3 separate regions of the Homo sapiens genome follow, and all the other regions are linked to region 2. Evidence: fine-mapped expression QTL. A gene starts in region 2. Each other region holds a variant in brackets. All regions are shown on one strand. Distances are between the middles of the regions. Region 1 overlaps FBXO25 (F-box protein 25). Region 2 holds the start of FBXO25 (F-box protein 25). Region 3 overlaps FBXO25 (F-box protein 25).

What was found. PIP is the estimated chance that this variant, and not a neighbour inherited with it, causes the effect.
Region 1: its variant is fine-mapped to the expression of FBXO25 in prefrontal cortex (BrainSeq, PIP 0.95).
Region 3: its variant is fine-mapped to the expression of FBXO25 in whole blood (INTERVAL, PIP 0.95).

What each region holds. Positions count from the first base shown.
Region 1 is chr8:471,628-482,712 of GRCh38, reverse strand. FBXO25 (F-box protein 25) reads right to left here. Exons shown (of 10, transcript NM_183420.2): 10 at 4,746-11,085. Among named protein-coding and RNA genes, the nearest start is that of TDRP, 68 kb to the left of the region's middle. RefSeq lists enhancers at 2,665-3,164, 3,165-3,666. The variant A/C (reference allele first, on the strand shown) is at 6,917.
Region 2 is chr8:400,715-411,799 of GRCh38, reverse strand. It overlaps FBXO25 (F-box protein 25), which reads right to left and starts at 4,842. Exons shown (of 10, transcript NM_183420.2): 1 at 4,734-4,842. RefSeq lists a silencer at 4,710-5,119 and an enhancer at 7,221-7,280.
Region 3 is chr8:462,181-467,180 of GRCh38, reverse strand. It overlaps FBXO25 (F-box protein 25), which reads right to left. Exons shown (of 10, transcript NM_183420.2): 9 at 4,031-4,174. Among named protein-coding and RNA genes, the nearest start is that of FBXO25, 58 kb to the right of the region's middle. The variant C/GC (reference allele first, on the strand shown) is at 1,987.

The DNA of each region.
Region 1 (11,085 bases), 71 kb before region 2:
TTAAGGCCAAAGCTGGGCCCTGCGGGGCTTTGTCCCATGGCCAGACGTTTTCATCAGAATTAGGTGCTGTTTTCTTCATTGTGTGGAGAGTGGATTTGATGGAAGAAGGTCATGTAATTGGGGGAGGGGGGAGCCAAGTCTCTAGACAGAGTAGGAAAACTAGTGGGGTATTGAGTTTTGGAGACATTTCTAGGGCAACAAGGTATCTTTAGGAATTTGGTCCATGGCAGCCTTGGGCAGATGTTTAAAAAAACAGACTTGTACCTGGAATTCGCTTTTAAAGTCTGCCAGCTGCCCAGGGTCATAGGTTCATTTGCCCAGGCTCCTGCATATTCTAATTTTATCCACTGAGGCCCAGGACACATGGAGTCTCTGCTCAGTCTCTATCCTTAGAAGGAAGCTTCAAGCCGGGCTGTCAGAGCCGACGGTAAACACATGATGAATGTCCCCGCCGCCCTGAACCGTCTTCCTGAGATTCTGTGTGCCTGCCCACTCTTCCTTGCAGAGTCTGAAAGTGCATTGCAGCGTGTTCCTCCGGCTCCCAGAATCGGACATCCGTTTCATCTTGGAGGAGCACATCCTGAATAAAGGTTATTCTAATTTTAACAGCAGCAAATGCTAAGCTCAATGGTGAACTAGAAGGGCCATCTCCCAGCAAAGCCTAATGCATCTTAGGAATGTGTGACCATTTATTTTTTGTTTTTATTAAAAAACCTTTTTAGAGACAGGGTCCTGCTCTGTCACCCAGACTGGAATGCAGTGGCATGATCAGGGCTCAGTACAACCTCCAACTCCTGGGCTCAAGTGATCCTCCTGCCTCAGTCTCCCGAAGTGCTGGGTTGTAGGCCACTGCACCCAGCCATTGTGACAACTTAGTGATTTTTCCCTTAGTGGCTCTGACACAAGAAGCAGACAGGACAGGATGGGGTGGAGGCTCATGGTCACAGTTTGAGTTTTTTCTCCCTTTAAAGTATTTTCCATTCCTGAGGCCAGTGGGATGAAGGAAGGGAAACAAATCACACTTAATCCTCAGATAGTGGTTAATTCTCATAATTAACCAGGTGTATTTCAATTTGGCTTTTTCGAGATGGGGGGGTTGACAAGCATTTCAGTTTTTAAATTTTTTTATGATGAAAAATAAAATCTATGCAAAAGTATGTAGTACAATGGACATCCATAAACTCAGCTACTGCGATTCAATAATGGTTGTATTTGTCATATTTGCTTTGTGTGTCCATACATATATTTAACCATTTAAAAGTAAATTACGGACACCGTATCACCCCCAAGTACTTCAACATATATTTCTAAAAAAAAAAAATGATGCTGCCTGCATAAGTAAATATGATTGGCACACCTAACAAAATTAATTTCCTGTATCATCTAATACATATATATATGTTCCCAATTGTCTGGAATGTACCTTTTAGCTGTTTTTTCCCAAAACCATGATCGTGCATCATATATGGCTGTTCTATCTCTGAAATCTTTTGATGTTGGAAACAGGAGCCCCCTGTCTCCCTTCCCTCGCAGCTTTTCCTGAACACACTGCTGTTTGAGGTGTTCAACTCACTCCTCCATCCTTAGCACTGCCTACAAACAAGAAATTGGATCTAAAGGCTCGGTTAATCCAAGCTGCTGCTTCCTTTCGGGGCAGCTCCTGGGCCCCTGTGCACAGCAGGGCCACATAGTGTCTGACATCCACCATTAGTGGTAACATTAGGCTCAGGTGGTAACAACTGGATCTTTAACCTGGCTCCCCTTATTCCTTAAGCATCTCTCAGTTGTGCCCTCTCTACGCTTCTCGAGGGCTGTGTCCTGGCACCTCTTCTGCAAGCAGAGAGCCAGGGATGTGGCCCGCCACCTGGGACAGGTACCTGCTGTACTCCCTCTCAGATCCAGAAAAGAGGTCATAGCAGTGAAAATGCAGGTGAGACCATTTGATTCCACCCCCCAACCCGCCTGCAAATGTAAGCAGCTTTGTGGGAGGAACTAGTAAAAAAATTTGCATGGGAATTGGAAACATCCTAACCACCTTGAGATCAGACGACACTGCTCTGTTTCCATGCTACAGGGATCCTGTTAAGTGTGACCTGTGTCACAGACCATCGCCTTCCCCTCGGTAGATGCTGAATTGAGGAGGAAGGAGAGGAGAGCTTGAATGAAGGCTGCATTAGTGCACGTGGCTCACATAACAGCCAAGATGCTACAGAGCCCCTTGCTTTCCTCACTAAGGGGTAGCATGATTGTGTGACCTTTGGTTATAAAGCTGTGTGAAACTCAGTAAGTCAAACTTAATTCAAACTTCAAGCCATTGGAACTTTACTCTGGCCTCCAAAAGGGAGGAGGGAAGGAGAAAGGGGACAAGGGTTGAAAAGCTACCTATTGAGCACTACATTCGCTGTTTGGGTGATGAGTTCAAAAGTAACCCAGACCCCACACCATGCAACATACCCATGTAGCAAAGGGGCACATGTGCCCCCTGAAACTAAAATTTAAAAAAGCACTCAAAAAATATTGAGTCTTGGAAGGAATGCAGCTATGCAGCTGGAGCCACGGAGCATACAGCTGCAACCTCTGCCTTTCTTTCCCTATAAACGACCAAATGCATCAGAGATGAGGCCCCTGAGATCACTGCTCCTCACTTTGTGGAGTGCAGCCATCTGTAATGGGTCATATTGCCATAGCGCACACACTGGTCTGTGGAAAACGGCAAGACTCTGCGATATCTCGGCTCCTGCCTATATGAGTGAAGCCTTAACTTTCCACTGTGGAACGCTGACCCTGTTTGTGTAGAGCCCATCCCCCAGGTGGCCATCCTCAAAATGTGTGCTTGAATGTGCTAGACACTTCCCCGTATTTTCTGAGCCTCTTCATTTAAGGCTGACAGCTGATAAAGTTGCACCAGCTGTCCATCAGGTAGATGAGAGTCCAGGGCAGTGCCCAACTCTGTGTAGACATGGGGGCCCCAGAGAGGTGCCTGTCTGGGTTATGTACAGAAAAACCGGTTTGCTAAAGAAGCTGGTGTTTTGAAATGTGACACTTAAGTTTTTAGAGGGAAAATGTAGTAATTGGGGAGCGACCGCACCTCCGGCTATCCCCACGCATGGCTATCCTTTCAGCCACACGTGTGGCACAGTGTGTGCGCCGTCTGCTGGAAGAGCAGGGTTTGGGGAAGAGGTTAACAGATAAGCAACATGAATGGCGCTGAGCCCGTTGGAGGGGCACGGGCAGTCCTGAGTGAATGTTACATAGGAGAGCCAGGGTTGATGTGGCTGCAGCCTCGTCTGCTCTCACACCAGCAGGTGAGTGTTAAAGGCAGGCCTCCTGCTGGTGGGCTTGTTTTCTCCTGGCATGTGTGCCTTGGGAACATGCTGCTTTCCTTTGTGCCTTTCTCTGATTCAAAGACTGGTTTCATCACCACTGAAGGGCATGTCACCTTTATGAGGTATTCCATTCTCTAAGTTTTGGTTACTGTATCTCCAAGACCTGCTGTTTCATGGCAAATCTCCATCCACTGGGTTTCTGATTATGTTTGAAGCTTATCATCATCATGCTGGCATCTTTGCCTTTTGGTGACCAACTGTTATCTTACCAGTGAGTGGTTTCATCTTTTTCAAGTGTGTCTGACAGTAACAGTGACCGCCCCCCACCCCGGTACTATAAGGCTGTCAGTTCGGGTGGATACTTAAATATTTATGTATTTTTTGAGACAGGGTCTCACACTGTTGCCCAGTCAGGAGTACAGTGGCACAAACACAGCTCACTGCAGCCTCCACCTCTGCCTGCTGAGTAACTGGGACTACACGTGTGCCACCATGCCTGGCTTTTTTCCTTTTTCTTTTTTTTTTTTTTTTTTTTTTTGTAGCGACGAGGTCTTGCTATATTGCCTAGGCTGGTCTTGAACTCCTGGGCTCGCTCAAGCAATCTCTGGCCTCGACCTCCCCAAGTGCTGGGATTACAGGTGTGAGGGACTGCACCTGGCCGCCATTTAAGTATTTAGAAATTAATGTCCCAGCATGGTTTTTCAGAGTTGCAAAGATATTTTCACTTACTTACTGATAAAGGGGTAGAGTTTTAGCTTTTGATAAAGGGGTAGAGTTTTAGCTTTCATAAGAAGTGAGGCTATTGATCCCTTTGACGTTACTTCTGTTTAGAGTTTTAGGAAAATATTTTTAAAAATTTAGATAATTTATTTTCAAGAAAGCTGAACAAATCTGGATGGTGTGGGGGTGATGGGAAATACCATTTGAGTTTTGAGAAGTGATTTTTTTTTTTATTCTTTGGAAACTAGTGTTTACAGAAATCTCTTCTCCCTAGAGACTTTAAAACGTGCTATTAAGACAGAAGGATATGGTAAGAATTTTTATTCTGTAAGAATCTTCAAAGCTCAGCATGAAGATACACATCTTTCCCATGGGAATCCAGGCTAGAGAAATGCAAGAAGGCGGTTCCCTCTAGAGTCTCCTTTCCTGGGAGATGCAGCTCCAGATGGGTGGGTTTCTGGGCAGGAGGGGAGAGGAGGGTGGTGTTTATTCAACTGTTTATTTGGGATCATGTTATGCGTCTTCAAAAAGCGATATAAGAGAAAATATTGGAAAGATATTTCAAAATAAGAATTACCTTGAAGTAATTCCCATAATTAATGGGTAACATTTTTGTGTATGTATTTTGGCTTTTTATTGTAAAAATAATGTATTTTCATTGTAGAAAGTTTTTTTTAAAAAGTAACGAGTACAAAAAAGTAGTGTTATATAACTTTTAATGGAAAATGTCAAATAGATACAAAAGTATAAATCAGGTTGGCAAGTGAAATACAGGCCAAAATTGGGCCCACCAGCTGTTTTTGCACAGCCCAAATGTTAAGAATGATTTTTACATTTTTAAATAGTGAAAAGATGTAAAAGGGTAATATCTAATGACATAAGAAAAGTATGTGAAATTCAGATTTTATTGTCCAAAAAGTTTGGAACACAGCCACATGCACTGGTGCGTGGCCCCCTGGTGGCGGCTTCATGCCACTACTGCCAAGTGGCAAGAGAGCCCCATGGCTGGAAAAGCCAACAATCTTTACCATCTGCTCCAAGCCCTGCTTCACTCCCCTGTGTGTACCTATCCTTGCAGCCTCAAATTCCCGGCCAATCTTGTTTCATTTATAGTTACTCCCAGCCCCACGGATTCAAAGGAAATCCCAGACATCCTATAATTTCATCTTCATGTTGAAATTTAAAAAGTTTGAAAATTCACCAAGATGTAATATATATGCACCAAACATCAGAGCCCAAAATATATGAAACAAACATTGACAGAATCAAAGGAAGAAATGGATAGTTCTACAGTAAGAGTAGGAGACTGCAGTAGCCCACTTTCAGTAACGGATAGGACAACCAGACAGAAGATCAGTCGCAAGACAGAACTTGAACAGCATCATACCAGCTGGACCTAACAGACACAACAGCAGTACACACGTTTTTCTCAAGTGCAAATGGACCTTTCTCTAGGATAGACAGTATGTTAGATGACTAAACAAGTCAACAAATTTCAAAAGACTGAGGAAATAAAATATCTTTTCTGGCCACAGTGGGATGAAACTAGAAATCAGTAACAGACAAAAAACTGAAAAGTACACAATTATGTGAAAATTAAACAACGCTCTCAACCAGCAGATTAATGGGGAACTCACAAGGGAAATTAGAAAATATCTTGTGGTAAATGAAAAATGTAATATACAAAAAAACAGGTACAGTCAAAGCAGTGGTAGGAGGGAAATTTGTAACTGTAAATACACCTATTAAACAAATTAAGATCTCAAGTCAACCCTAAATTTACATCTGAAAGAACTAGAAAAAGAAGAGCAATCAACCCAAAGCCAGCAGAATGGAGATGATTATAATAATAATAAAGATTAGAGCAGAGACAAAATAGAGAACAGAAAAGCAATAGAGAAAAATAAATGAAACCAAGAGTTTGTTGATAGCTAAGAGTGACTAAGAAAAACAACTAAAAACCAGGAGGAGACATTACAACTGATTTTACAGAAATAAAAAGGATTAAGAGTACTATGAGCAATTACATATCAAAGAATTGGATAACCTAGATGAACTGGACAAATTCTTAGAAACACACAGCCTATCAAGATTGAATCATGAAGAAATGGAAAATCTGAACAGACCTATGCTAGTCAAGAGCATGAAGTAGTAAAGAAAAGCCTCCCAAGAAAGAAAAGCCCAGGGTCATATGGGAATTCTGGCAAACATCTGAAGAATTAAATCAATTCTCCTCAAACTCTTCCAAAAAACTGAAGAGGAAAGGACACTTCCAAATGCATTCTATGAGGCCATCATTATTCTGATACCAAAACCAGACAAAGACACTATAAGAAAAAAACACCACACATCAGTATTCCTGATCAAGATTTTTTTAAATCAATATTCAACAAAATACTGGCCAACAGGATTCAGTGGGACATTGAAAGGATTACACATCATGGCCAAGTAAGATTTACAGCTGGTATGCAAAGATGTTTCAACATGCTCAAGTCAATAAATGTAATGTCTATTACATTAATAGAATGAAGGAAAAAAATGTGATCTCCATTGATGGAGAAAAAGCATTTGAGACAATGTCATGCCCTTTCATGATAAAAACTCAACAATTGGGAATAGAAGGAAACAACCTAAAATAGAGGCCATATGAACATCCCACTGTAAACATCATATTCAATAAGACTGAAAGGACTTTAAGATCAAGAACAACACAGAAATACCCTGTCTCACCACTTCTGTTTAACACAGTACTGGAGTCTTAGAGCAGTTAGGCAAGAAAAAGAAATAAAAGGCATCCAGACTGGAAAGGAAGAAGCAAAATTATCTGTTTGCAGATGACATGATCTTATATGTAGAAAATCCTAGTGTCC[A/C]TACATATACAAAAAAAAATTTCAGTAACACTGCAGTTTACAAAATCAACACAACAAATCCATGATATTTCTATACAATAACAAGCAATCTCAAAAGGAAATTTAAGAAAATTCCATTATAATAGTAACAAAAAAACTGAAATATTTAGGAATAAACTTAAGGAAGCAAAAGACTTGTACTTGAAAACCATAAAACACTGCTTAAAGAAAGTAAGGTCAACACAAATAAATAGAAAGCAATCCCGTGTTTATGGATTGGATACCTTAAGATGTCCATAGTCCAAAGCAATCTATAGATTTCATGCAATCTCTATCAGAATATCCCAGTGGCTTTTTTTTTTCCATCCTGAAACTCATATGGAATCTCAAGAGACCTCACACAGCCAAAATCATCTTGAAAGGGAACCAAGTAGGAGGTCTCTCACTTCCTTATTTCATAACTTACGACAAAGCTACAATAATCAAAATGGTGTTGTATTGAAACAAAGACAGTCATGTAGACCAATGGAACAGAATAGCAAATCCCCAAATAAACCCTTGCACATATGGGTCAAATGATTTTTGATGGTGCCAAGACCATTCAAGGGAGAAAGGACAGTCTTTTCAACAAATGGTGCTAGACAAGTGGACATCCACATGAAGCTAGATCTACCTCACACCATATATAAAAATTAAAATAGATCAAAGGCCTAAACTAAGAGCTAAAACTAAAACATTTAGGAGAAACATAAGGGAAACTTTTAACAACATTGGATTTGGCAGTGATTTCTTAGATATGACACCAGAGGCACACACAGGTAACTAAAAGAAAGAAACAACTTCTGTACATCAAAGAACAAAACAGAGTGAAAGGCAATCCACGGAATGGGACAAAGTATTTTAAAATGATATATCTGAAAAGGGTGAGGCAGTGATTTCTTAGATATGACACCAGAGGCACACACAGGTAACTAAAAGAAAGAAACAACTTCTGTACATCAAAGAACAAAACAGAGTGAAAGGCAATCCACGGAATGGGACAAAGTATTTTAAAATGATATATCTGAAAAGGGTGAATACCCAGAACATATAAAAACACACACCTGATTGAAAAATGGACAAAGAGCCCAAATAGACATTTCTCCAAAGACGACATATAAACGGCCAACAAACAGATACTCAGCATCACCAGTCATTACGGAAATGCAAATCAAAATCTCAGCAGGATACCACTTCACACTCATTAGGATGGCAATTATTAAAAACAGGTGTTGGCAAGGATGTGGCAAAACTGGAACCTTCAGTGGGAATGTAAAATGGTGCAGCCACCGTGTAAAACACTTATGGCAGTGCCCTAAGAAATTAAACATAGGATTGCCATATGATTGAAAGCAGAGACTCAGATATTTGCACACCCATGTTTACGGCAGCAATATTCACAATAGCTAAAAGGTGGAAGCAACTCAAGTGTCCTCAACAGATGAGTACACAAACAAAATGTGGTCCATCCATAGAATCAGCCTTAAAAAGAAATCTTGACATATCCTACAACTTGAATAAACCTTGAGGACATTACGCTAAGTGAAATAAGCCAGTCACAAAAGGACAAATCCCTTCTGGTTCCACTCATACGAGGTCCCTACAGAAGTCAAATTAAAAGAGACAAAGGAGAACAGAGGCTGCCAGGGGCTGGTGGATGGGGAATAGGGAGTTGGTGCTTAATGGGTACAGAGCTTCAGTTTTACAAGATGACAAAAGTTCATCTTGTAAAGTTGAACTTGTGGATACGTGGTAGAGAAGGTTGCACAGTATGAATGTATTTAATGCCACTAAATTGCACACTTAAAATAGGTAAGATGGTAAATTTCACGTGTATTTTAACATGTCAAATTCTTTTAAATGACATTAGAATTGACTACATAGGTTAGATAATAAAAACCAACTTGCCTTCATCTGTGCAAGTTTCTCAAATGATTATCAAATAAAAATGAAATTTCCATGCAAAAACGAGACAGTTGAGGTGTCTCTTCTATTTGACACAGATGTCCTCATTTTTTTTGCTCTCCCTTACTTAGGAAGAACAAGAGCATTTCAAAGAAACCGCATCCTCAGTGAACGCTGGTTATGGTCCAAGAGCCAGCCCAGGACCCCTGTGGCACCAGCAGTGCCTTCTCCTGCTTGCCCCTCCAGCTGGTGCTCTGGGCATCTCTGTTCTTTGTCACTCTGTGGATTTGAGCCAGTGAGGATTGGAAGGAAGAGGACCAAGTACAAAAAGGACAACTAGGAGGGTTAACAGCCTCTCCTAGGCATTCACGTGAAAAGCAATGGCAGATCCACGTGGCCTGTATTGGGGCAGGTGCCCTGGGGAGCAACTCCTTCATCTCACAGATGCTGAGGGCGAGAATGGCAGCAGCCATACACTGCCTGAGTTTAGAGAGGACTGCTGGGGGTGCATGTGCAGGTGCCACGTTACCACCTAGAACACACTGTCTCATGCTGTGAGCCAGGGCTTTTTAGGCACACAATGATGCAGTTCCTGCTGAAATTCTGAAGGCAGAGGCTACACCTGAGCAGCTCCTACCGGCTCAGTGGCATTTAGCCCATGGGACGCGGGGGGACACTGCTTTCCAAAGTTGAGGGTCTGCCTCCTCTATGCAGAAACAACAGGAAGGGATAAGGAGTGGGGCTTGAGTGAAGACAGAAGCAGCAATTCTGTTGAGATACATATGAGTGCAGGGTGGATGCTGGTGTCAGCCATAGAGGGCCCCAATGGCTGGTGCTGGTTAGTCATGTATGCAGGTCCTTCTTTTTCCTCCTACCTGTTGCTAATCCCTTGGCTTTGCCATTGGGTAGCATTTGATAGGGACTAAAGGGAGGTGAGTGGTGTCCATCACGTGCACACATCATAATGAAGAGAGGGAGATTAAAAAGTCGAGTTTCATAAGGCAGGCTTGCTTCTGACTTTTCTCAGAGGGCAGCACCCCTTCCTTTTGATAATTCTGAAGATAAGCAGAACAGACTAGGTTTCACAGTCCACTTATCTACTAAGTTAGGCCTTCGCAATGAAAAGAAAAACCATTAAAAGGCATCTCTGGAGAAAATGGTCTTATCCTCTTAAAGGATAATTGAAGCTTCTCAGTGACTTCAAATCTTATATGGAGTTCTCTCAAACATTTAAAGAAGAATTAACAAGAAACCACCACAAACACTTCCAAAACACAGAAGAGGGAACACTTTCTAAGCTTATCCTATGAGATGGACACCAAAACCCAAGAGATCACAAGGTGGTGGGTGGCAGGTGGGGTGGGGGTGGGGGTCTTGGAACCAATCCCCCGTGGATACAGAGGGCTGGCTGTTCCAGCACACCAAATCTAACAGCTATGTATAAAAGGTATCATAAACCATGACTTAGTGGGCTTTGACCCAAGAATGCAAGGTTGGTTCAAGATATAGAAATCAGTCAATGTAATAACAGCACATGATCTTATGAAGGCCAAAAACTACATTATCTTAAGAGATGCAGAAAAAGCATTTGACAAAATCCACACCCTTTCACGATAAAAACAAACTAGGAATAGAAGGGAACCTCCCCAACCTAATAGAGGGTATGTATGGAAAACCCAGGGTTAACATCATAGTTAATGGTGAGACTGAAAGCTTTCCCCTAAGATGAGGAACAAGACAAGGATGTTCACTCTCGCACTGCTATTCAACATTGTACTAGAGATTCTAGCCAGCGAAACGGGGTAAGAAAGAATAAAGGACATCTAGACTGAGAGGAAGAAGTGAAACTGTCTATTCATAGATGACATGATTTTGTACACAGCATCAGGAATCTACAAAGGTGTTAAAAGAGCTGATAAATCTTATATGACAGTTTGGTTCTAAAAGCAGCACTTAAGGCAAAAAACTGTTCACAGATGGTTAAATTTTTTCCATAAAGTAGACACAGTTTGCTGTGTACAGCCCTGTACAGTACGCACACACAGTGCATACAGAGAGCCTGTACGTCATGCAGTAAACCACGACAGCTACAAATCGGTCTGCTCCTGAGAGGCTACTGCATGGCTTTCCAATTTGTGTGTATTCATAAATTAGGTGAGGAATGTGACTTTTTGACTCAAAATAGGCAAAAGGAAGTTGTAACTGGGTGTCAAGAGACACCAGCCCTGAGTGAGCAGCGCAGACTG
Region 2 (11,085 bases):
GCTCCCTGACTCCCCGTCCAAACAGCGCCCTTCTGCTGCCTCAACCCCCTCCCTACCAGTCTAAGCCATTATCTAGTGCCTTCATAGTTGTAAGGGCTGTCTGAAATGATTAGCGTGTTTATCATCTGTTTTCCTCCAAGAAAATGCAATGTCTTGTTCAGGTCCGTATTCCATTACCTTGAACAATGCCAGGAAAACAACAGGAGCTCTATAAGTATTTATTTACTGAATGAATAAATATATACATCCATGGTTCAGAAGAGAGTTAGACTAGAGAGAAAGAGGAAAATCATGAGCATTCAGACACTAATCAAAACCACACAAATAATATCACAGAATATGTCGAGAGGGAAATCAAGAGAGCCAAGAAAAAAACCCTAAGAAACATCACCATTTAAGGGATCGGCAGATATAAGCCAAGAAGAAAAACTGAAAAGGAAGAGCCAAAAAGGTAGAGGGAGAAGTAGGAAGTCAGGAGAAAAATGTATTTCAGGAAAGAAATGGTCGACAGAGACGAAAATGTTATAAAAATGCCAAGCATGGCAAGAGTTGAAAATATACGTTGAATTTAGCTACAGAAAGGTAGCTGAATTACTCAAGCAAAAGTGGTTTCTGTAATGTATTACTTTAATTTCACGTCCCGAACAGACTTGAGTATTTTATAATATAGAATATTTATATCGTAGAGAAAAATGTAGAATATTTACATCATGGAGAATAAATGAGAGATGAACATCTCCAAACACCACCTCCCAACTATATTTAGTATAATTAACAAAAAACAAGCTATTAAATGGGCACTTATACAATCCTAGAAGATACAGAAAAAAAAGGAAGGAAATTACATAGACTTCAACAATATTCCTGGATCAACCACAAATGCTTAATTCTTGACTGGTGTAGGAAATGATGAAGTAATTATTCTTTACACGAAGAAAATCTCAAACCTTGCTAAACTGACTTATAGTCAGAACATGTCTTTTTCAGTCACATAATGATTAATTTAAATTCTTGCTTTAGAAAATACTTTATTCCTTAAATTTCAGCACAATTTTGATAAACTTTGTCTCACAGAACTGCTTCACAACTACTGAACATCCTAAAATGCAAAACTCAATGCCCATGTTCAGTCGACCTAAAGTTATCTAAAACTGTCTCTAATAGCATACAGCTGATTTTATGATTTTCAAGAACATTCCCACCAAAGGCAGCAAAGACCATGAAGTAGCAGATGACTGAAGTGGCACCTTGAGTCTCATAAAACACATTCAACAGAAAATGGCTGCTAGGAACATCTCTGATAATTATCAAATTATCTCTCAATATCAACTTGAAACTGTGGATTCAGAAATCTATATTAAAAAAAAAAATCAAGTGGATAATCCTGAAAAATATTGCTAACAGACCAAATACAGGATTACTTCAACGACAAACATTTGAGCACCAACTACATGTTATTATGCTAGATGTTCCTGCCCTCAAAAGTGTGCAATTTAGCTAAGGAACTAAAAAAGAACAATAGCAAAACACACACAAATTCCATACAAGTGTAATATAATAAAGTGTGTTTACATGTAGATATGTGAGTGTGCATGTATACATACATACAGATATGTCCACAATCTTGTAACTTGTGGTAAAGAGAGAATAAAGTTAATTTGAGCAGAAAGCAAATCAGCTGGGAAAGCTCTGACTAGAAACTAGGACTCGATCTTCGCCCTGAAGCATGGTTAGATCTTAAATGAATGGAGAGGCAAGGCAAAAAATATCAATCATGGGAATGGTGGGTGAATAAGTATAAAGGGCAAAATGTGTGCCACAGTTTGAGAAAAATAAGCAGAAAAGATGGGATAAAATGGAGAAAGTTTATCAGAGGACTGGTACATAAGCGACTAGAAGCCAGGTCATAGAAGAATATCAAAGGTGTTTAGACTTTATTCTGTCAGTAATTAAACGTTTTTCAGCAACAGATCAGCGTGAGCAGTGTTGTTTTGAGAATAATAATTTTCTAGGGCTTGTAGGATAGATCAAATGAAAAACATGGAGACAGAAAAAAACAACTAGGCAACAAATATCTTGCCAACAGAACCTTATCTGGATGACTGTCCTATGTACATCCCGGTATCCTCAGCTGAAAAAATATTTTAAAACTTGATGACACACAAATATTGTACTTACCTATTTAGACACTATGCCCACTCATCATTTAATACACTTATCTTCTAGTTTCACAATCTTTATAACATTTACATAAAGAGCCTGCCTACTGTTTCCATTAATATAACCAATTCTTTTACAACTACCTAAACTCTACAGATAATTCATTTTGGCAACTCAGTGAAAAATGAATAGTTTGGTCTGAATTTCTCAGCTGATAAGTTTGATTTTTTAAGGGTTGAAAGGAGTGAAATGCAGCCATGGAAATAAAAAAATAGTCCATGCCCAAAGGCTTATTTTCAACACAGAGGAAAAGATTTGTTTCTCTGAAGATGTGTGTGCTTCACAGATTTGTTATGGTATGCTCTATGGATCACAATGAAGTTTTTCTTAAAGCATAATCTATACAGCTCATGAACTAAAGCACAAACTCTGGATGCAGATTAAAAACAACACCACCAACAAAAAAAGACAAGTTGCAATTTAAAACGTCTGGGGTCTGGATCTCAAGTTTTCAAAAATACTCCCAAACTGAGGCTTCTGAGTTTGCAAATCAGAAAACAATGCTACTAAAGTTTTATAGAATGATGATGACCCACGGCTTTCAATGGGAATGTATTTGTTCAGCTAAAAAATGTGAATTGCTAGAGCTTTATACGCTTATTTTAATTAAAATTACCTTTATTTTGGGAATTTACAAACACAAAAAAACTAGAAATTACTCCTGAAAATTATTAAACTTTTAAGAGCAAGCACTCAAAGGGTGTAGCTTGTATAATTTGCAAATTTTAAGCACATTTTATGCCAACTTATTTCAGACAGCCTACAATGATTAACTATTTAAAATCTTCCCTTAATTTCTATTTCATGTGGTAGGACACGTGGGTGGGATACTTCAGTAGAAAAGGACTTCATGAAGTTCATTTGCTGGTGGAAACTCTTGGCATGAGAGACTCAGAACAAAAAAAAATGTCTTTCCTTCAACAAGCATATTTTTTCTTAACAATAATAATGGCAAACATTTATTAGAGCTTACCATAGGCTACGCATTACTCTAAACAATCTACATATGTTGTCTCATTTAATCCTCACACTGTCCTCCAAGGTAGAAAACATTATTCTTGTTTTACAAGTTTCATTATGTATTTTAAAGATGAAGACACTGAGGCAAAGAGTTCAGTGGAGCTGGGATTCAAAATGATGGAGTCTCACTCCAGGATCCATGCTCCTAACCACTATGTTTATAATAGCAGTTCCTGAAAACCCTATTAAAACAGATGCCATTAAATTATAAGCTTTTTAACTTTTTTTTTTTTTACCGTCTATTACAGATCACTAATATGATTTCAAGTAATGATGAACCTAAATACAAAGGCACTAAAACAAGGAATACAACACAGGAAAGAAAACTCCAATCCATCTTAAAAGACCACATGTGTTTCCCTATTTGTTTTGCTTATAAGTGTGGACAAATTTGATCCAGAAAGGACATTTTAAAAAATGGCAAACTGAGGGCTGAGAGTCAGAAATAAGTTGTACTCTAAGGACTTACAGATAATCACAGATTCCTCATGGGAAAGGTAAACACGTAAAGACGAGGAGAAAACAGAATATGAAAGAGTAAACGTCTTTTCTGATTAGGGCCGGATGGTAAGGATTTGGAGGCAGCAAGAGACAGCTTCATAAGGGAAGAAATGGTTCTCTAGATTCTTTAGTCTTCAAAATGAGTTTGAATAGGCCCAAGGACAGAGGTGGAATCTAATTGAGAAAAAGGTCAAATTGAGCTTACTGTGAGGGGAAGGATGCAAAATTAGTGTCTGCTGCAAGAAAAATAAGCATGGAAAGAAATTAAGGGAGGAGACAGAGACAGAGCCAGAGCCACAGACCAGGAGTAGGGAAAAAAAGGTAAGCAGCAGACGGGGCAGAGTGGCCTGGAGGAATGAGGGGTCACACCTAGCAGGTGCCCACCGGCGAAGAGGCAAGGACCGAGCCCGGAGGGCAAACGCCGGCAGGAGTCGTCCCCGAAACACCTTGCCCAGCGAGGCGGACACAAGCTCGGGCCTGCAAGACGGCCCAGGAGGGTGGGGGCGGGAAGGGGTCGCAGAAGGTGGGCAGGGGAAGCGGCTGAGGACGCGCGGTGCACCTGTGGGCGGCCCCCGTGCCCACCCGACTCGCCCGCAGCTCCCTGAATGAACCCTCCACACCCGCCGGCCGCCCCCAGACCCCACCTGACGCGCCCGCGGCCCATCGTCCCTACCTGACGCGCCCGCGGACCCAGACTTCAGCAGACGCGCACGCGGCAATCCCGTCCCCACCTGACGCGCCCGCGACAACCCCGTCCCCACCTGACGCGCCCGAGGCCCCCGGTCCCCACCTGACCCTCCCACAGGCCCCGTCCCCACCTGACGCGCTCGCGACCCCATGTCTTCCCCTGACGCGCCCGCCGCCCCCGGTCTTCACCTGACTCGCCCGTGGCCCGTCGTCCCCACCTGACGCGCCCGCGAGCCCCAATCTTCACCTAACGCGCCTGCGGCGCCAAGTCTTCACCTGACGCGCCCGCTGCACCCCGCACCTACCTAGCGCGCCTGCGGCCCCCAGTCTTCACCTGACGCGCCCGCGTCCCCCAGTGCCCAACGGGCGCGCCGGCCACCTGGGCCCGCACCTGACGGCGACCAGGCGGTTATTGCCGGAAGTGGGCCGCCGCCTCCCGGCGCGCCTCAGGGAAGCCCCGCCCCTGGCCATGCTGATTGGCCGGCGCGGATCCGCGTGGCAATGTTGCTGCCTGGTCCTGTCGCCCGCAGCGTGCGCCTGCGTAGTAGGCACTGCCCCTCCGTCCGCGCGCGTCCAGAGTGCCGGGCGTGGAGGCGTGGGGGCGTGGGGGCGTGGGGTGGGGCTCGGGTGCGCAGGGACGGGCGCGGTCAGTGCCTGAGATCCCTGCGATCGCTGGGAGATGACGGTGAAGACCTGAGATTTAGGCCTGCGCGGCGGGTGACGACGCCGGTCCGGGTCTTCACGGGAGGACGCTGGCCGGGGCCTTCAGGTGTTCTCGTGGCCTGAGGACGCGCGTCCCTGAGAATGTGCGTGCCCGCGCCGCGCGGGTCCCACAGGAGCCTGGGCAGCCCCGCCGCCGCATTTCCACCCTGCGGCCGTATTTCCACCCGCTGGGCGCCAAGCCCGGGATGACTGCACTCTAGGGCATCACTGCGCGCTCACACTCAGCATTCGGGCACAAGCACGTTCTCTTTATAAACAGTTTCGAATCTTGTCGAATCTTTCTAGAAGGTTGAAATGCCCTGGAGGAGCAGCGTGAATAGTTTTTTCCAATTAGGAAAAAAGAATGTGGGGCGGCTGGAGGGAGAGAGGCAGGCCGAGAAGGCCAGGTGGGTCCAGGAGCCGCAGCCCCCGTGCCTCAGTTTCCGCCTAGAAACATGGAGGTGGCGGTGCACGCTACAGGATTTCCATAAGAACAAATGAGTTAGCGTGTGCAAAACATTTAAAACAGTGTCTGGTGTGTAGCAAGCAAATATGAGTATTAGTCTTTTCCTTGTTAAAATGTGTGCATCTACATGTGGTGCACATTACAGGAAGTGTATAGTATGGATTCATATTTTGGAAAAGTAATTTTAGAAGTTATTTCTGAAGTGCTTATTATAATAGTGTTTCTTGACCACATGCTTTTAAATAATGTGAAGGCAATGAAGTAGGCAATATTGCTTGCACATCCCCAATTTAAACACCTGTCTGTCCCTCCTTCCCTCTCTCCGTTCTTTTCTTCCTTTCCCTCTCTCTTTATTCCTTCCTTCATTCCCTTCAAGGTTGCGGATTATTCTATTATATAAATGTATCAATTTATTAGAATAGTTTCTATGATGTCTATGATAGGTTTTAAATTGTTTGCAATAGTTTGCCATTATAAATAATGCCCAGTAGCGCTGTGGTCTGATTTAACTTGTGAAGGTATATTTCCAAATAAATCGCTATGATTGGATTGTTGTGTAAAGCAAAAAGTGTCTGAGGCAGATCACAACTGATTTAGAGGTTTATTCTGCCAAAATCGTGGACGTGTCTGGGGAAAAAGAAACACAGGTTACAGTAGGATTTTTGGCCTGTACTTTTTTCCAAATATTTAAGGGAAAAGCGCCGGTAGGAGGGGAAAGAGGGGAGAGTAGGCTATGAGGCAAGTGGTCACATTTTTGTGAGGCTCTGATTAGAGTACAGCAAATCTACATTTCACATGTGAAAAGAAAGGTATGGGGGAGGGTTATGCATCTGTCTCATACTCAGTAGATCTACATTTCACATAAGATAAAGTAAGCTTTTGGGAACAAAAAGAAGACTGCGTGTGTGTGTGTGTGTGTGTGTGTGTGTGTGTGTGTGTGTTTTGCCAATATTAACTTTTCCCTTTGGCATAGTAAGTTTGGAGGCCTGAAATTTTATTTTTCTTTCACTGATGTGTCAAGGTTAACTGCATATGGAATACTAGTAGAAATTGCCAAGCCAAGACCCCACCACCACAATGGGGGACATAGTAATATTAAATTTAGCCCAATTGGCTAGCATCCTCACAATTCCTAGTGAAAGAATTCCTGGATGGATGGTAAAGAGGTAAACAAACTGCAGAAACTCACAAAGCAACAAAAGAAGTCCACAGAGTAAGAGCAGGAATTCAGAGAGTAACCACAGAGAGATCCACAGAGTAACAGCAGAACCCACAGTGTAACATCAGAGCCCACAGAGTAACAGCAGGACCCACAGAATAATAGCAGGCACCCACAGAGTAACATCAGAACCCATAGTGTGATAGCAGAGCCCAAAGAGTAACAGCAGAGCCCACAAAGTAACGTCAGAACCCACAGAGTAACAGCAGAGCCCACAGAGTAACGTCAGAACCCACAGAGTAACAGCAGAGCCCACAGAGTAATGTCAAGAGCATATTCATGGTCTTGGGTCTTCTTTGTGTGTCCTTTCTACCAGGACTGGGCTTAGCTCTGTGCTTGTGAAGAGTAACCCACTCAGTGCCCTCGGGAATTTCACCACTGGAGGAGGAGAAAAACCCCAGAGGGGCGGGGAGAAATGCTTTTCAAAACACATGGTGCAGCTGGAGATTGTGGAGCAGTTGCCCGGGCAGAAGGCTCGGCAGGGGGAATTAGTGACCAGTAGGGAGGTGCCTCCCTAACCACAGAGATTTTTTGGCAATCAACTTGTTGAAAAATCATGTTTTAAAATTTTCTTTAAGTCAAACCCTACAGAACCTAAGGAGCTGGCTCCTCCTGGCAGGAAGCTGGGAGAGTGCTGGTCACAGTGCACCAGGTGCCCCCTGCCTCACAGGGGCTTAGGGTGGTGGTGAGCACAGGGGTCCCACGCTTCTCCAATGCACACCACACAGTCGTCTCCTCTGACCTTCCCAAATGCTGCACGGACAAGTGTATGTAGTCCCTAACTCTCAGGACAATGTAGACTTGGTATACCTTCGGGCACGGGGAATCCCATCCTTCTTCCTGTTCCTGCCGCTCTGAAGCATGTGGTGTATGTTTAATGGGGATTTTACACAATATGGGAAGACCACTTCTGCTTTCTATGCAGTGATAATACTGCAATAAGAAAAAATGAACCAAGCCACCAAAACAAAACAGTACCACCTGATGCAGAACTAGGAGGGAAACACAGCAGTGTCTCAGAGCTAATGCAGCAGCCAGGCACCACGACAGTGTCATGGGTACAAGGAGGAGGTGTCTCAGAGCTAATGCTCTGTGCTGACAGCAGCCAGGCACCACGACGGTGCCATGGGTACAAGGAGGAGGTGCCTGGTTTTCAGGAGCTTGCCATCTGAACAGACCCAAGGTGGCAAACACACAGTGAGAAAATGGGGCCATGAGTGCTGTAATTACCTACAGAATGTTTAGGGGGACTGGGAGCAAAAACAATCCCCTCTTTCAGAAACCAATCCTGGAAGGTGCTGGAAGGTTGTACTAGCTGTGAAAATCAGACGCCAGCAGGCAGCTATCGTGAGACCAAACGCAGTACTCAGCTCAGGCAAGCCGGTTTGCTTATTTATGTCAAATTTCTCAGTCTTGGGTCTCCTTATCTTTTAAATAAGGAGTTAGAATAGAATTTGAGGGCTGTTCACTCAGGCATCCATGGTGGCTGCAGCATAAGGAGTGTGTGGTGTCAGGATGGGAAGGGCAACATGGAGACTGCATGGCCATTGACGTCTGAAAGTCTCTGGTTGCCAAAAAGAATCTATGTACAACAGCATTCATCCTGACAGCAGCCAACAGGCAGCCTAGACCTGGCATGCCACAGCTCCTCTAGGCTCTGAACCCCTCTCAGCTGAGCCTGGTAGATGCCAGCTGACCGGCTGCAGCCCCTGAGTAGAGGTTGGCTGTCCTAGCAATAGCGTAGGGCGGGGGCACAGCAGACATGGGACCATCATCTAGATTCCTAGACGTGCAACTTCAAGTGAGTACATAACCTCCTGAGCCCCAGCTCTCACCTGAAAGCTGAGTTAGGCGCACACACAGGAAGGCAGAGATGGGTCCAGGGCTGGGCTTCTGGTTCCTCTACTCAAACTCTGCTGCTCCCTGCCCCTCTGCCATCCCTGCAAGCTCCTCACTGACCATGCTTGTCTCAAGCGTTCTCTCTTCCTCCTGACCTCCTGGGGACTTCATAAACCCAGTATCTTTTTAAAATAATCTATTATTTTAGGCTCAGGGGTACATGTACAGGTTTGCTATACAGGTAAACTCATGTCTGGGGGTTTGTTGTACAGATTATTTCATCACCCTACATGTACAGGTTTGCTATACAGGTAAACTCATGTCTGGGGGTTTGTTGTACAGATTATTTCATCACCCTACATGTACAGGTTTGCTATACAGGTAAACTCATGTCTGGGGGTTTGTTGTACAGATTATTTCATCACCCTACATGTACAGGTTTGCTATACAGGTAAACTCATGTCTGGGGGTTTGTTGTACAGATTATTTCATCACCCTACATGTACAGGTTTGCTATACAGGTAAACTCATGTCTGGGGGGTTTGTTGTACAGATTATTTCATCACCCTACATGTACAGGTTTGCTATACAGGTAAACTCATGTCTGGGGGGTTTGTTGTACAGATTATTTCATCACCCTACATGTACAGGTTTGCTATACAGGTAAACTCATGTCTGGGGGGTTTGTTGTACAGATTATTTCATCACCCTACATGTACAGGTTTGCTATACAGGTAAACTCATGTCTGGGGGGTTTGTTGTACAGATTATTTCATCACCCTACATGTACAGGTTTGCTATGTAGGTAAACTCATGTCTGGGGGGTTTGTTGTACAGATTATTTCATCACCCAGGTATTAGCCTAGTACCCAAGAGATAGTCTTTCTGATCCTCTCCCTCCTCCCACCCTCCAGCCTCAAGTAGGCCCAAGTATGTGTTGTTCCCCTCTGTGTGTCCATGTGTTCTCATAATTTAGGATATGAGGATAATGGCCTCCAGTCCCATCTATGTTCCTGCAGAAAACAGGATCTCATTCTTTTTTATGGCTGCATAGTATTCCATGGTGTATACGTACCACTTATTTTTTTTTATCCAGTCTATCATTTTTGGGCAATAGATTGATTCCTTGTCTTTGCTATTATGAACAGAGTAGTGTAGGCTTATAGTCCCGGCTACTCAGGAGGCTGAGGTGGGAGTGTTGCTTGAGCCCATGAGGCGGAGGGTGCAGTGAGCTGCGGATTGCAATGAACAAACACGTGCATGCATCTTTACTGTAGAACAATTTCTATTCCTCTGTGTATGTACCCGGTAACGGGATTGCTGAGTGGAATGGTAATTCTTTTAGCTCTCTGAGGAATCACGATACGGCTTTCCACAGTGGTTGAACTAATTTACACTCCTATCATCAGCATATAAGTGTTCCCTTTTCTCTGCAACCTTGCCAGCATCTGTTATTATTTGACTTTTTAGTAATAGCTATTCCGACTGGTGTGAGATGGTATCTCATGATGGTTTCAATTTGCATTTCTCTAATGATCATTGATATTGAACTTTTTAAAATGTGCTTGTTAGCCACATGTATGTCTTCTTTTGAAAAGCATATGTTCGTGTCCTTTGTTCACTTTTTAATGGGGCTGTTTGGTTTTTTTCTTGTAAATTTAGTTCCCTATGGATGCTGGATATTAGACCTTTGTCAGATACATAGTTTGCAAATATTTTATCCCATTCCATAGATGATCTGTTTTCTCTGCTGATAGTTTCTTTTGCTGTGCAGAAGCTCTTAAGTTTAATCAGGTCCCGTTTGTCAATTTTTGCTTTTGTTGCTATTGCTTTTGGTGTGTTCGTCATGAAATATTTGCCCTTTCCAGTGTCCACGACGGTATTGCCTAGATTGTCTTCCAGGAAACTCAGCACCTTATGACTCGTTTCAGTTATTTAAATCTTAGCCCAGCCCTGCTCTCTACTTAAAACAAAACAAACAAACATAAAAAACTCAGTTCCCCATGGAGACTGAAAGCCCTCTGAAGGCTGAGATGGAAGTCTTATACTTTTTGGAGCCTTGAGTGTCCACCTCTAACTGTGGAGAAGGAATGGAAAGAGAGGTGCAACAGACGGGCTGCACATCTAGCTGGAAATGTGCAATCCAAAGGGCACGACTTTTGCTGAAACGCCGGGAGTGGGCCAAGGCCGCAAAGTCAGTCAGATGTGGTATCAGTGTTTGCTCATTGTGTTAATGATTATTTCCATGGTGACATGGCCTTTTTTTTCTCTGTTGCCTTACACGAGATCCAAGCAATGAGACACACACAGCCCAAGCAGGGATGGCAGAACTCAGACCCGGACCAAACTCCTGGCTGCAATTTGTTCGTACAACAGGTGGTGTCTGTCTCTGTTGTCATTTGAGCCTGGAATTCCTACAGCCTTCTCCCTA
Region 3 (5,000 bases), 58 kb before region 2:
AGCAGCTGCCCTCCTGTGCTGTTCTCCCCCGCTGGTTCAGGATGCTACTAGCAAAGCGGTTCCCCTGCAAGACCAGGACCACCAGACCATGGACACCTCATCTTGGATTCTGGCTCCAACTTTGCTCCTGATGTCCACACAGGCCTGTGGGGTGAACGTCAGATGGCCAGCCCTCTATTCTGGCAACTGATACACCAAGAAAAAACAGGACATAAAAAGGCCAAATGCTCATCATGGCTTCCCTGACCCAGCCAACAAGTCTACAGTTTTTAACTGAGGTTTTGTACAGCCGGGAGGTAACGCCACCCCTCTCAGTGGACCCTCGCAGGGCCATCGAAGTCAGTCTTTGGCTCCAGAGCTTAACTCAGCCCAGTTACTTACAGACTGTGTGGAAGGCTGACTAAGGCAGGTAGAAAAGTTAAAAAAGAACTCCAATATAGTAGAGCCACAACAGATGGGAAACCAGCTTGGGAGCAGATGAAGTGGCTCCACAGCACTGCTGACTGGAGAGCTCCAAGCTTATGTACTGTGGGAAGTGATAAATACCAGATGCAGACCTGAGACAGATGCACCATGGTGTCGGCTCATGACCAAGTCCCAGGGCCAGAATTTAGAGTCAACAACACCCAGTCTCATTTTCTTAACAGCTTTGATATTACTTTAGTTTCTCAGTCAACACAAACTACTGGGATGCTAAACAAACAAAGAACAAGCAGTGACCCTAACCCTAAGTGCCATTTTCTGAGCACCAGCTATGTGCCAGTTTCCAGGTGCAGGACTGCTGAACATCCACAGCTCCTCTGTGTGGTGGGTCATGGCGTCAAACCAAGACCCTAGGAGGGGCAGCAAGCTCAGGAGACCCCGGAGGCAGGTCCAGGTCTGCCTGACTCCAATCTGGGTTTGGCCCACCAGGCCACTCGCCTCTGGTTAGCCACACTGGGCAAACCCACGGCGGAGGAGATGGAAGACAGGGCAAGAAGTACCTGACATCTTGAGGGGTTAAATTAGGAGAGATGGCTCTTTTTGAATACTTCCAATGCATGGATTCAGAACTAAAAACGTGGACTGCCTTCTAGAATGATATTCAGTGGGAGAAGCTGTGATGGGACCACTCACTGTAGCTACAGTGAAGTGGACATCACAGCCTCCAAGGGCAAGACATGAACCTCCCAGAACTAAGAGATGGGCAGCTGTCCTTCCTAGGAGAGACTTGTTCTCAATTTCCATGATATGATCAAGTATGATAACAAAGTTCACTAAATACAAGAATGGCAAAGCAAATTCTTTTGGAAGGCTACATCATCTCTCAATTTAAAAAAATCAGAAATTACATATTTCAGGAAACTAAGGCAGCATATTCTTATATACATGGAGCACCTGTAATCCAAAAATCTGAGATGCTCCAAAATCCCAAACTTTTGAGCAGTGACATGATGCCACAGTGGAAAACTACACATGTTAAGTAACACAAACTTTGTTTTATGTATAAAATTACTAAACCATTGTATGAAATTATCTTCAAGCTCTGTGTAAATGAAACAGATGAAAAAAATCTGAAATCTGAAACACTTCAAGTCCCAGGCATTTCAGATAAGGGAGACTTGATCTGTACTGCCTAACAATGTGGAAGCGAAGGACTGTGTATTTCTTTGTTAGTTGCTCAGCAGACAGGGAGAGCTCCAATATTGATAAATATTGTTCTAAGAAAAATACTACCACATACAAAACTGAAAGCCTTCTATCCCTTCTATGAATGGTATTTTCCCTATAAAAGTATCATTGCTTGTAATAGTTCTATAGTACAAAACAATCTGCTCAGGAGAAAAAAAGACAAGTAACTCTTAGGAGAAGCACTAACTCAAATTAGAAACTACAGTATTGTGTCCACTCTTACTCTGTGACTGAAGACACAGTCACATGTTTTCAGTGTTAATATTTCAGAGAAGAACAGGTGTCAGTCCTAGAAGGAATTACACAGAAGGGGGG[C/GC]CCTGTTCCCTCCAGGGTCAGGTGTCAAAGCTGGCTGGGAACCTGGACTTCACTCAATCGGCCCCTTTCCTTCTGTCCACAAGCATCTGCCTGTGGCTTCTACTGCAGACAACTCACCCCCATACTGTGCCTTCTGTGCCCTATAACTGGGGAGAAAAGAATAGAATGAGGGTTCTCTCCTGTATATCCATAATCTTACTGATGAACTGATTTGCTGACTTCACCAAATCGAGAATAAACTGGAATCAAGATGTTCCCTGCTCTTGAGGGATAATAGTCTACAAGACAGTTGTACTACTGCAAAAACACATAACACAACTTGCATCTTTTTAATTTCAGGAAAGAGAGAAGTCATACCAAAATATAAAACAATAAATCAGAAATAAAATCTCATATTCATGTATGATGCTGTTTACCTTTGATATACCAAATAAAACTATTAAAATAATACAAGAAAAACACATCTTTACATTCTCTGCTCAACCACGGATTAATTTTTAAAGCCACACTTAGAATAAATGTAATTTGAAATGAAAAAATGAAAAGCAGTTGTCTCTTTCCGACAACCTAGAGTTTGCCGTATGACCTATCTGATAACAAATATAGATAATGTAAAGCAAAAAAAGTAATCACAAAAGGTTATGGTGTCTATCAGGCAAAAGCCTCATCTCCCTAGACCTAGAGAAGGCAAGAGGCAGAGACAGCCCACTCTTGCAAGAGGCAGGGCCTCATCTAGACCAGGGACAGTCAGAGGACTCCCTCCGCAGAGCAGCCAGCAGCTCAGCAGGGTCACTCCAGGACCAGCTTATGCCTAGTTTCAACATTTTTTTTCCCCCACGGTGAAATCTCACAACATAAACATGTTCAAACGCAAGGCAAACCATGGAAACACACTCCAGGGTGAAATAATATTAACATGTTAAGAAAAAAGTGGATAATTGCCGGGTGCCATGGCTCACGCCTGTAATCCCAGCACTTTGGAAAGCTGGGGCACATAGATATTGCTTGAGCTTGGGAGTTTTGAGACCAGCCATGGGTAACACGGTGAAACCCTGTCTCTACCAAAAACAAACAAACAAAATCAGCTGGTCCCAGCTACTCAGGAGGCTGAGGTGGGAGAATCACTTGAGCCCAGAAGTCGGGGCTGAAGTGAGCCATAATTGCGCCACTGCACCCATAACTGCCTGGGTGACAGAGCAAGATGCTGTTTCAAAAAAACAAACAAAAAAAAGAAGTGAATTAGCTGGGTGTGGTAGCACCTGCCTGTAGTCCCAGCTACTTGAGAGGCAGGAGGTAGAGGCTGCAGTGAGCCGTGATGACGCCACTGCACTCCAGCCTGGGTGACAGAGCGAGACCCTATTTCAAAAAAGAAAAAAGACAACAAAGAAATAAGCAGTTACCTCTCTGACTGTGAAAAACATTCTATTTAGACACACAGTCTGGATGGTGAGAACAGGAAGTAACTGGATGAAGGGATGAGACTTGCAGATAAGTAACGATAGTCTTGTTAAGTTCTGATCATATGAATGAGAAAAATGCAGATTTTAAAATCTAGGACTTCTCTATGGACACTTTTTTTCTAAGAATGTGGCTTTGAGAAATGAAGCCTAAGCTGGTCCTGGCCCTGCAGAGTCGGTGGGGACATAAAGGGCCGAGGGCTAAGTCTGGGGAAACGAGGAAGGTGCACTTGTCCTCAGATGGGCAGAGGGGTCACACTCCAGCCTTCAACCTCAGGCTGGGGGCCAGCAGGGAATCTGGAGCTGCTGCCAGGAAAGGTCACTGGCTGCAATCCGCCTGCAACGCCCTCCTGCATGCTAACTTCTGCAAAAAGGAGAAGCATTTTGGTTTTCAGCGTTTCTGGTTTAAGCTACACATTGAATGAACATCTGTTCCCCTACCCCAATATTTGGTAAAATATATCTCCTTAACTTACTTATAACAAACAGTATTTTCCGCTTTTTAGTCTTATACTTAAAATATAGGTGATTAGTTTGTTTCACCAAAATTTAATCCTGAAATTCCAAGAGTGCATTTAAATCAGTACCTTCCAAAAGAGAATGCTGCAGTGCCGACAGAAATGCAGTGTGTCTCCGTACTGCTCCTTCGCTGGGTAATGTTTCTGAAGTGCAAAGTACATCAACTTCCATTCAATATGACCTTTTTCTGAAAGGATCAAATGTCTACAAAACTAAACAAACAAAACTCCATTCAGAATCCGCATAAGATGACTTTCAAAACATAATATTAGGTGTAAAACTTTTTCATTTTATTTTAGTTTTTAATTTCTTTTTTTAAACTTCAATAGCTTTAGGGTTACAAGTGGGTTTTGGTTACATGGATGAATTGTACAGTGCTGAAGTCTGGGATTTTTGTGCTCCCATCACTGGAGAAGTATGCAGTGACCCAACATGTAGTGTTTCATCCCTCACCCTCCTCCTACCCTTCCCTCTTCTGAGTCTCCAATGTGTATTATACCTCTCTGAATGCCTTTGTGTACCCGTGGCTTACCTCCCACTTATAACTGAGAACATATGATATTTGGTTTTCCATTCCTAAGTTATTTTACTTAGAATAATGGCCTCCAGGTCTATCTGAAATTATTTTTCAAAGGCAGTGTAGTACATAAAACAATTATTTGAAATTAAACTCACTTGGGTTAAATCAATAAGTGACAAATCAAATAAATTGTGTTATGCCTGTATAATGGAATACCAAGCAGCTGTTAAACAGACTTAAATACTCCAATCCAGAATAATGTCCATAATGTATTATTAAATTAAAATAAGCTACACACATCATATGTGATAACAGACTTATATCTAGAATAGATAAAGAACACTTACAACTCAATAATAAAAAGACAAATAACCCAGTTTAAAAAATGGTCAAAGGACATGCAAAGACATTTATCTAAATAAGTCTCAGAAATGGACGATAACCTCATGAAAAGATGCTCTAGAATCCAGTCATCAGGGAAATGGAATGAGACCCACTTCCTGCCCACTAGAATGGCT